Linked DNA regions of Homo sapiens. The protein of the gene in region 1 purifies or fractionates together with the protein of each later gene. This does not show direct contact. Each region holds a gene or a part of one and is shown on either strand. Other genes may lie near its edges.

What was found.
Region 2: the proteins of SYTL3 (region 1) and RAB10 purify together in Homo sapiens (affinity purification with western blotting, with the first as the bait; one study listed by BioGRID). This does not show direct contact.

Annotation. Positions count from the first base shown.
Region 1 is NC_000006.12:158,652,145-158,657,708, forward strand, and holds part of SYTL3 (synaptotagmin-like protein 3), read left to right. Parts: intron 1-5,564. UniProt on the Homo sapiens protein: May act as Rab effector protein and play a role in vesicle trafficking. Binds phospholipids in the presence of calcium ions.
Region 2 is NC_000002.12:26,121,084-26,124,583, reverse strand, and holds part of RAB10 (ras-related protein Rab-10), read right to left. Parts: intron 1-3,500. UniProt on the Homo sapiens protein: The small GTPases Rab are key regulators of intracellular membrane trafficking, from the formation of transport vesicles to their fusion with membranes.

The DNA.
Region 1 (5,564 bases):
CTCAAACTCCTGACCTCAGGTGATCCACCCACCTCGGCCTCCCAAAGTGTTGGGATTACAGGTGTGAGCCACCGAGCCCAGCCTGTTTATTTATTTACTTATTTTATTATTATTATTTTTTGAGACAGAGTCTCACTCTGTTGCCCAGGCTAGAGTGCAGTGGCTGCAATTTCAGCTCACTGCAAGCTCTGCCTCCCGGGTTAACACCATTCTCCTGCCTCAGCCTCCGAAGTAGCTGGGACTATAGGCACCTGCCGCCACACCTGGCTAATTTTTTTGTATTTTTAGTGGAGACAGGGTTTTAACATGTTGGCCAGGATGGTCTCCATCTCCTGACTTCATGATCCACCTGCCTCGTCCTCCCAAAGTGCTGGGATTACAAGCGTGAGCCACCACGCCCGGCCTTATTTATTTTTTTGAGACAGAGTCTCGCTCTGTCACCCAGGCTGGAGTGCAATGGCGCGATCTCAGCTCACTGCAACCTCCACCTCCCAGGTTCAAACAATTCTGTCTCAGCTTCCCGAGTAGCTGGGATTACAGGTGCCCACCACCATGCCCGGCTAATTTTTGTATTTTTAGTAAAGACAGGGTTTCACCATGTTGGCCAGGCTGGTCTCAAAACTCCTGACCTCGTGATCCACCCACCTCAGCTTCCCAAAGTGCTGGGATTACAGGCGTGAGCCACCGCACCCAGCCGAGTCTTCTAATGTGAAGTAGAGATATCTGAGGGACCTGAAACTTGTACAACTTGTGGAGACTTTGGGAAAACAAAGAGGGAACCAGGTACAGGGCATCTAGGGCCTTGGACAGGGCCGTGCAAATAAAGGATTCTGAAGTTGAGGTGTCATTCGCTTCCCAGAAAACCCACCTCTGAATGAGTAACAAGATAGACAGAAAATGTATAAACGCACATCTTCATTTCTGTGTCAGACTTTCTGATGGATATGCATGCGTGCTGTCTCATTGTTGCAAAAATGAGTCTTTTAAGCCTATGAATAGGGAACTGAGCTGAGAGCTGTTCTTTATTCATCACCTTCCTTTGTGGCTGTAATCAGCTTCCGTAAAGAATCTATGCAAGCAGGCCGGTCGCAGTGGCTCACACCTGTAATCCCAGCACTTTGGGAGGCCACGGTGGGCAGATCACCTGAGGTTGGGAGTTTGAGACCAGCCTGACCAACATGAAGAAACCCTGTCTCTACTAAAAATACAAAATTAGCGGAGGATGGTGGTGCATGCCTGTAATGTCAGCTACTCGGGAGGTTGAGGCAGGAGAATTTCATGAACCTGGGAGGCGGAGGTTGTGGTGAGCCAAGATCGCGCCATTGCATTCCCGCCTGGGCAACAAGAGCGAACTCCGTCTCAGAGAAAAAAAAAAAGAATCTATGCAAGCAAAAAAGTCATGAGGTTTTCAGGTAAAATTTCAAGGACAATGCAGTCACTCAACTTTTCCCCTGTGTACGAGGCAGAAAGCATGGTGGCTGCACGCTGAAGCTGTGAAACTTCTCAAGGAAATAGCTGTGGTAAACAATACAGGAGCGAGCTGCCGCCCGCTTGAAATGACCTGCAGGGCTGTGGCTTGTGGGCTTTGAGAACGTTCTGTAGTCTTCCCTTGAAAGCGTGTGTGGTGATGACAGTCACATTCACACGCACTCATGCTACCGCAGATCTCTGCATTTCCACTCTGGTGACGTTTCCCCCGTACCAGGGAGGGCTGAACATTTATTTCCTTTGATCTGATGACTGACTGCTCAGAGACAATAGATGATTGGATGAAAGAAATAGGGGCCCCTAAGAATAAACAATGTGTCCCTTTCCCATCCTCCTCATCTCTTTTCTTCATTGGTTTTACTTTTCTTGTACTTTTCCCCTTTCACCAGATTTAGAAGCCAAAGTCAAGATTTGCTGTTAGGCTGAGGAAAGCAAGCAGGCATTGTTTCAAACTCCTAGTGCATGGCTGACTATTTCAGTCCCCTGGCGGAGCTGTCCCACACGTCTCTCCCTGGGAAGCCCTCCCTGGTCCCACCAGCCCTCTCTGCTCCTGTGTGGAGTGACTCTTGCCTTCTGATCCTTGGGTTTTGTACTCATCCCACCATGTTATGAGTTATTTGTCTGTGTGTCCATGTTCTGGCTGGGATGGGTCCTTCTTAAATGCAGAGATTGAGTCTCACTTCTTTTTAGATCCTCGATATCTGGCACGTGCTTGATACATAGAGGCCAATAAAATCAGTGTTGAACTGACACACTCAATGCCGTAACCAAACTGTGTTTGTCTGGATGCCGAAGTTCCACTGGGATACAGCATGACCAGATAAAGACCAATGGAAACACCTAGATTGAAGTTTTCCCCATGGCTGCCCGCGTCCCTCCCAATCCCAGAACAGTGGCTTAACTTCCTACTCTTGGGCCTTCCTGAAGGGGAGATGGAAGGGTAGAAGAAACCCTTTTGAGTCGGGCTTGCTTTGTTCTGGCTGTTGCTCTAGGGCTGTGCCTGGATGACTCAGTGAGTTCCCCAAACAGCCCTGTGAAGCAGGGATGGCTCCATGTCACGGAGGAGGAAGGCCAGTCTCCCAGAGATGAAGCAGCTGGCCTGAGAGCACGTGGCTGAGTCCTGGCTGGGTATGAGCCCAGACTGTCTGGCTCCAAAAGTGACACAGAGACAGGATGGCTGAGTGTCGGGGGGGCTTCTCCACATGGCTGTAGGAGAATGTTTCCTTCCAGGTGGTGCTGTGGTGTGGGATTTATTCATTTTTAATTGCCAGATAAAATCAGGCTGATCGATGGAGTGCTGTAAAACAAAGACAGGCACCATTACAAAAATGTAGCAGGGGAGTTAGGAGACTGGATCTAAGCTCCGAGCAGGTGAGGACGGTGCCTGACTCAGTGCTTGGGACATCATAGAGCATTTAAGATCTTGTTGAGCAAATGATGGAGTGACCGAATAAATGTCATCCTGGGAAAATGGACCTAGGAGATTTCCGTATTCAAGCTATGAGATTGTGAATTCCTGCGTGAGATGATTAACATACAATTTCAAAGATTCCTGTTAAATTCCAAAATGACTCAGATTTTTCTATGCTTTTTGGATTTCTGAAGACTGAGGTTTTCTGCAGTGAGGACTCACTTGCCCCCTGCCCGTCCTTACTTCCTGCTGTACTTGAATATGGGCTTCCTGCCCTAGGAAGGAAGTTTGACATCGGAGTAAATCTCCGTGTCGCAATATTCTTCAGGTTTCTCAATTCAAGCCAAACATCAAGTGCCTCCTGGCTGGGTGATGGGGGAATCGCTGAAATCTGATATTGTCCCTAGAAGGCAAACACTCAAGACAGAATGAAATCAGGGTCACCATCGAAATATACAAATTAGAAAGCAGTTAAATTTGAAGGAGCAATGGATCTTTATTGTAAATGAGGAGAAAGTTTCTGAACTGGGTAGCCTTGATCTGGCCCTTGAAGGGCTAATAGTAAGAGTGAGGCTGCTCTTACTGTTAGTACCACGACTGTCAGCCGGCATTAGCTGAGTGTACTTATGAGCTGAGCACTGTGCTCTAGAGGTCTCCACATGCATCAGCACGTTTCGTCATCATAGCACCGCCGTGAAGTGGGTGCTGCACCTGTCTACTTCGTAGATGAGGACATGAAGCCCCAGAGGGCTTAAGTAACTTGCCCATCATCAGCTCAACAGCAAGTCGGTGGCAGAGGCAGCTACTCACCCACACAGCCAGCCCCCAGCCCTGGTCTCATGACTGTCCCCATCTCTTGCCTCATTGGGCAGAAGGAAGAGTGGGGCCGATGCGTGGAAATGCAGAGCGCATGTGGTCAGGGAATGGTCTTGAATGAGGTCAGTATGGGAGTGGCGAGCATTCTGTGGGAACTGAGGATGGAGGAGTCAGGAGAACTGGATCGGGAGGTCACGACTGGGATGCCTGTGCTTTAGAATGTGTTTACGGGAAGGGAAAACCAGCGTGACTTCACTGGAGAGTGGAAGAGTGACACATTCCCACCTCAGTATTGTCACATCTGCCGTCTCTCACCCTAGAGATGCCTTCTCCTCCTTTCCAATCCTCACACAACTCCCCTCTTCTCCCAGGCCTGGCGGTGGCGTCTCAGCCAGGCAGGTGTCCTGTCCTTTCCTGTCACCTGTCAGTCTTCCTCTTCCTCGTGGTCCATTCAGCAACATCACTGCTGCTCTGGGTGGTTGCATGTGGTCGTTTGCCTGCAAGCAGGTGGGTGCAGCCAGTTCAGGACCCCTGTGACAACTATTCCTGTTACCTGCTTTGTGAGTGTTAAAAATGTCATCCTTGGCCGGGTGCGATGGCTCACGCCTGTAATCCCAGCACTTTGGGAGGCTGAGGCGGGCAGATCACGAGGTCAGGAGATCGAGACCATCCTGGCTGACACGGTGAAACCCCATCTCTACTAAAAGTACAAAAAATTAGCCGGGCATGGTGGCAGGCGCCTGTAGTCCCAGCTACTCAGGAGGCTGAGGCAGGAGAATGGCGTAAACCCGGGAGGTGGAGCTTGCAGTGAGTGGAGATTGTGCCACTGCACTCCAGCCTGGGCGACAGAGCGAGACTCTGTCTCAAAAAAAAAAAAATCATCCACCTTACTCCCTTACTCTATTGTTGTAGAAGGGCCTGAAGCACAAACCTGGTGTTGTGTGGTGATGGCGGGACAGTGTGGAGAAATATGCAGCGAATTTTAATAGATTTCACAGAATTCCTTGACTACCTCATGTTCTACTTCAAAATGGCACAAAACCAAAAGCATTCAAGAGAGAATTACATTTGTTTTATCCATTTTTAAGACTATGTAAAGTAACTCCATGTGGTTTTTCATATCTTGCTAGTGTAAGTGACCAGAATTTAAATCTGTAAAGGTTCACTTTTTCTTGCTAATGCTGTGAGGTGTTTGGAAGTTATCTCTGATCTTCCTGGTACTTACTATAGGCTCATTCAGTTTACTAATTAACTCCATCTGCCACCTTAAAAACCCTTAGTAGTGGCCGGGCACGGTGACTCATGCCTGTAATCCCAGTACTTTGGGAGGCCGAGGCGGACAGATCAACTGAGGTCAGGAGTTCAAGACCAGTCTGGCCAACATGGTGAAACCCTTTCTCTACTAAAAATACAAAAATTAGCCGTGTGTGATGGCGCGTGCCTGTAATCCCAGCTACTCAGGAGGCTGAGTCAAGAGAATCGCTGGAACCTGGGAGGTAGAGGTTGTAGTGAGGCGAGATTGCACCATTGCACTCCAGCCTGGGTGGCAGAGCGAGACTCTGGCTCAAAAAAAAAAAAAAAAAAAAAGAGAGAAAAAGAAAAAAGAAAAAAAGAGAAACTGTTAATGGCTAGGAAAAACTTTATGAAAAAACAAAACAAAAAACCTGAAAGATAATTTTAAAATGAGTAAATTGTCACCTAGGCATACTTTGTCTTGGAAAAATAGACTATGACTCTGTCTCAAAAGAAAAGAAGTAAAGGGATAGTGAATGATAATATGTACTTGTATATGTAAACTGCATGAGAAGACAAGGTGAAATAGTCAGATGTTTGCATACATCAAATCATA
Region 2 (3,500 bases), on another chromosome or scaffold:
TATTCAAAAACAACAATAGGCTGAGCACGGGGGCTCATGCCTGTAATCCCAACACTTTAAGAAGCTGAGGCAGGAGGAGCACTTGAGCCCAAGAGCTCAAGGCTGGAGTGAACTATTATCACTGCCACTGCACTCCAGCCAGGGCAACAAAGCAAGAACCTGTCTCAAAAAAAAAAAAAAAAAAAAAAAAAAAAGCAACAACAACAATAAGAAAAACAACAGCAACAAAACTGCCAAATGGCTGCGGTTACTTCATTTCCTGTAGCTATAAGAAAAAAAAAAACTAGGAAAGTTATAAAATATGCTGATTTAAAACAACATACAGTTGACCCTTGAACAATGGGGGTAAGGGTATACCATGTATAACTTTTACTCCCCAAACACTTAATTAGTAACAGCCTGATGCTAACCAGAAGTATTATCAGTAACAGTCGATTAACATATTTTATATATGTATTCTATACTGTATTCTTACCATAAAGTTAGAGAAAAGAAAATGTTATTAAGAAAATCATAAGGAAGAAAAATATATTTACTATTCATTAAGTGGAAGTGGATCATCATAAAGGTCTTCATCCTCAATGTCTTCAAATTGAGTAGGCTGAGGAGGAGAAAGAGGAGGGGGTTGGTCTTGCTGTCTCAGGGAAGGCAGAGGCAGAAGAGGTAGAGAAGGTGGAAGGGGAGGCAGGCACACTCAGTTTAACTTTACGGAAAAACATTGTAATTTCTTTTTTGCTTTTTCATTTCTTTAAAAATATTTCTATACAAAACCAATCCTTCTTTCATCATTTGCTTCAGTTTCAGTGCCTGTATCACACAATGGTCCATGTTGTACAGTAAGTCTAAAGCAGTCTTGAATAATCAGAACCCTTCTGCCAGATTGTCTACAGTCAATTTGTTTTCTGGCACTACTTCTTTGCCTTCTTCCTTATCGTCCAACGCTGGTTTGGAAGCACCGGCATCTTCATTAAATCATCTTCTGTTGATTCCTCTGGTTGATGTCTATTAGCTCTTGTCTTATCCACAGTCTCTTTCATAAATTCCTTGACTGGCTCTGCTACAAATCCTGTGAAATCATGCTCAACATCGGTACACAGTTTTCTCCAGCAGGAAGTTACTGTTTTGTGCTTGATGGCTTTCATGGCTTTTTCTATAACGATGGCATCTTCAGCGGTGTAATTCCTCCAGATTTTCATGATGTTCTATTGAGGTTAGAGTACCGTGTGTTATTAACCTTAAAGGTCCTCATGATCCCCTGATCTAGATGCTGAATTAGAGACTGTGTTCGGGGGCAAGTAGACCACTTCAATGTTTTCGGTGTTAAACTCATGGGGTTCTGGGTGGCCAGGGGCACTGTCCAACATCAAAAGAACTTTAAAGGGCTGTCCCATAATGGCAAGGTATTTCCTGATTTCAGGGACAAAGTATTGATGGAACCAATCCAGAAAAAGGATTCTCAGTGTTCAGGTCTTCTTGTTGAATGATCAAAAAACTGGCAGCTTCAAAAGACTTTTCCCTTCAGGTCTTGGGGGTTAGCAACTTTATACGTAAGGGCAGTCAGTCCTGATCATAAACCCAATTGCATTTGCACAGAACAGTAGTTAGCCTATCCCTTCCTGCCTTAATTCCCTGTGCTTTCTTCTTTTCCTAACACTCATGTCCTTTGTGGCCTGCCCCCCTCCCTGCCACCCCGAGAATAGGACACTTTTAACTGCATTAAAGACTTGTTCAGCGGTGCCCAGGAACTTGTCTGCTGTGTCTTAGTCAGCAGAAGCTGCTTCTCCTGTTAGCCTGCCATTTTTAGGCCAAGCCTCTTTCTAAAATTATCAAACCATTCTTTGCTGGCATTAACTCCTCTAGCTTCTCTTCCGTTTTGCTTTAAGTTGTCATATAATAACTTCACTTTTTCTTGAATATCATAGTCTACAAGTATGCCCTTTTTTTTTGTTTTTTTTTTTGAGACAGAGTCGCTCTGTCGCCCAGGCTGGAGTGCAGTGGTGTGATCTCAGCTCACTGCAAGCTCTGCCTCCCGGGTTCACACCATTCTCCTGCCTCAGCCTCCCGAGTGGCTGGGACTACAGGCGCCCGCCACCACGCCTGGCTAATTTTTTGTATTTTCAGTAGAGACGGGGTTTCAACGTGTTAGCCAGGATGGTCTCGATCTCCTGACCTCGTGATCTGCCCGCCTTGGCCTCCCAAAGTGCTGGGATTACAGGCGTGAGCCACCGCGCCCAGCCTACAAGTATGCCTTTCTTATAGCAATCCTGTACCCACATAAGAGCTGCATTTTCAACATGAGATAAAAAGGTATTCTGTAAAAAGTGCAAGGTTTCACACCTCCTGCTGTGGCTGCAGTGATGGCTTCACAAATTTTCTTTTATTTAAAATGGTCCTTATGCTGGATTAATTTATCTTGAAATAACGGGCAACCACAGCTGCAGACCTCATTCTACAGTACATATTAAGCAATTCAATTTTTTCTTGTAATGTCATGACTTTTCTGTTTCTCAGGATTGCTTCTGGCATCACTAGTGGCACTTTGTATAGGTCTGATGGTGTTATTCAAGGTTTATGGTATTGCACTAGACACGATGAAAACACGCAAGAACCACAAAAGACCTCTTTTGATTGCAATATGGGATTTACTGGAGACACAAACTGTTCACGGGGAGATGATCCACATCACATGGTGTTTTAAGCAGACACTTGGAAACATACGAGCTCACCAAAATAGCAACAGGAGGTGGCTACAAAATTATCACAGTAGTACAGTATGTATTAGTTATTTTTATGCAATTATGATTTAATACTGCATCTCTGTTACATTTCTCTTGATGCAAAAGGTGCCTTGTATGGGCTCTGTGTGTTTGAGTGTTAATAAATTTAAACTTTTAATAATAGATCTGTGTATGTTTTATGGTAGTAATAAAATAGACTAGTATCTACATATACTTTAGACATTCATAATATACTTAACTTTTTCTTAATTTCCCCCCCGCCCAATATTTCTAGGTTATGTGGCTTGTCTGTGAGTTTTTCAAGTTGTTGCAAGTCTCTAACATTTTTTCCAAAAGATTTGTTTTTAAAAACCTGTTTATAGAGCTGGGTGTGGTGGCACACACCTGTAATCCCAGCTTCTTGGGAGGCTGAGAAGGAAGAATCACTTGACCCCTGGAGTTTGAGACCAGCCTGGGCAACACTGCGAGTCCCCATCTCTTTAAACAAAAATATCCATGTGTAAGTGAACCTGCAGTTCAAGGGTCAATGACAGTTTAAAAGGGGGTAGACAAAGGTGGGATTAGGGAGGAAACAACTCTTTTGTTGCAAGGACGATACCCTTAGTAGAATCACAAGCTTAACAAAGAAAAATTATACCGCATGTGGTGGCTCACGCCTGTAAAGCCAGCACTTTGGGAGGCTGAGGTGGGTGGATCACATGAGGTCAGGGGTTCGAGACCAGCCTGGCCAATATGGCAAAACCCTGTCTCTACTAAAATTAC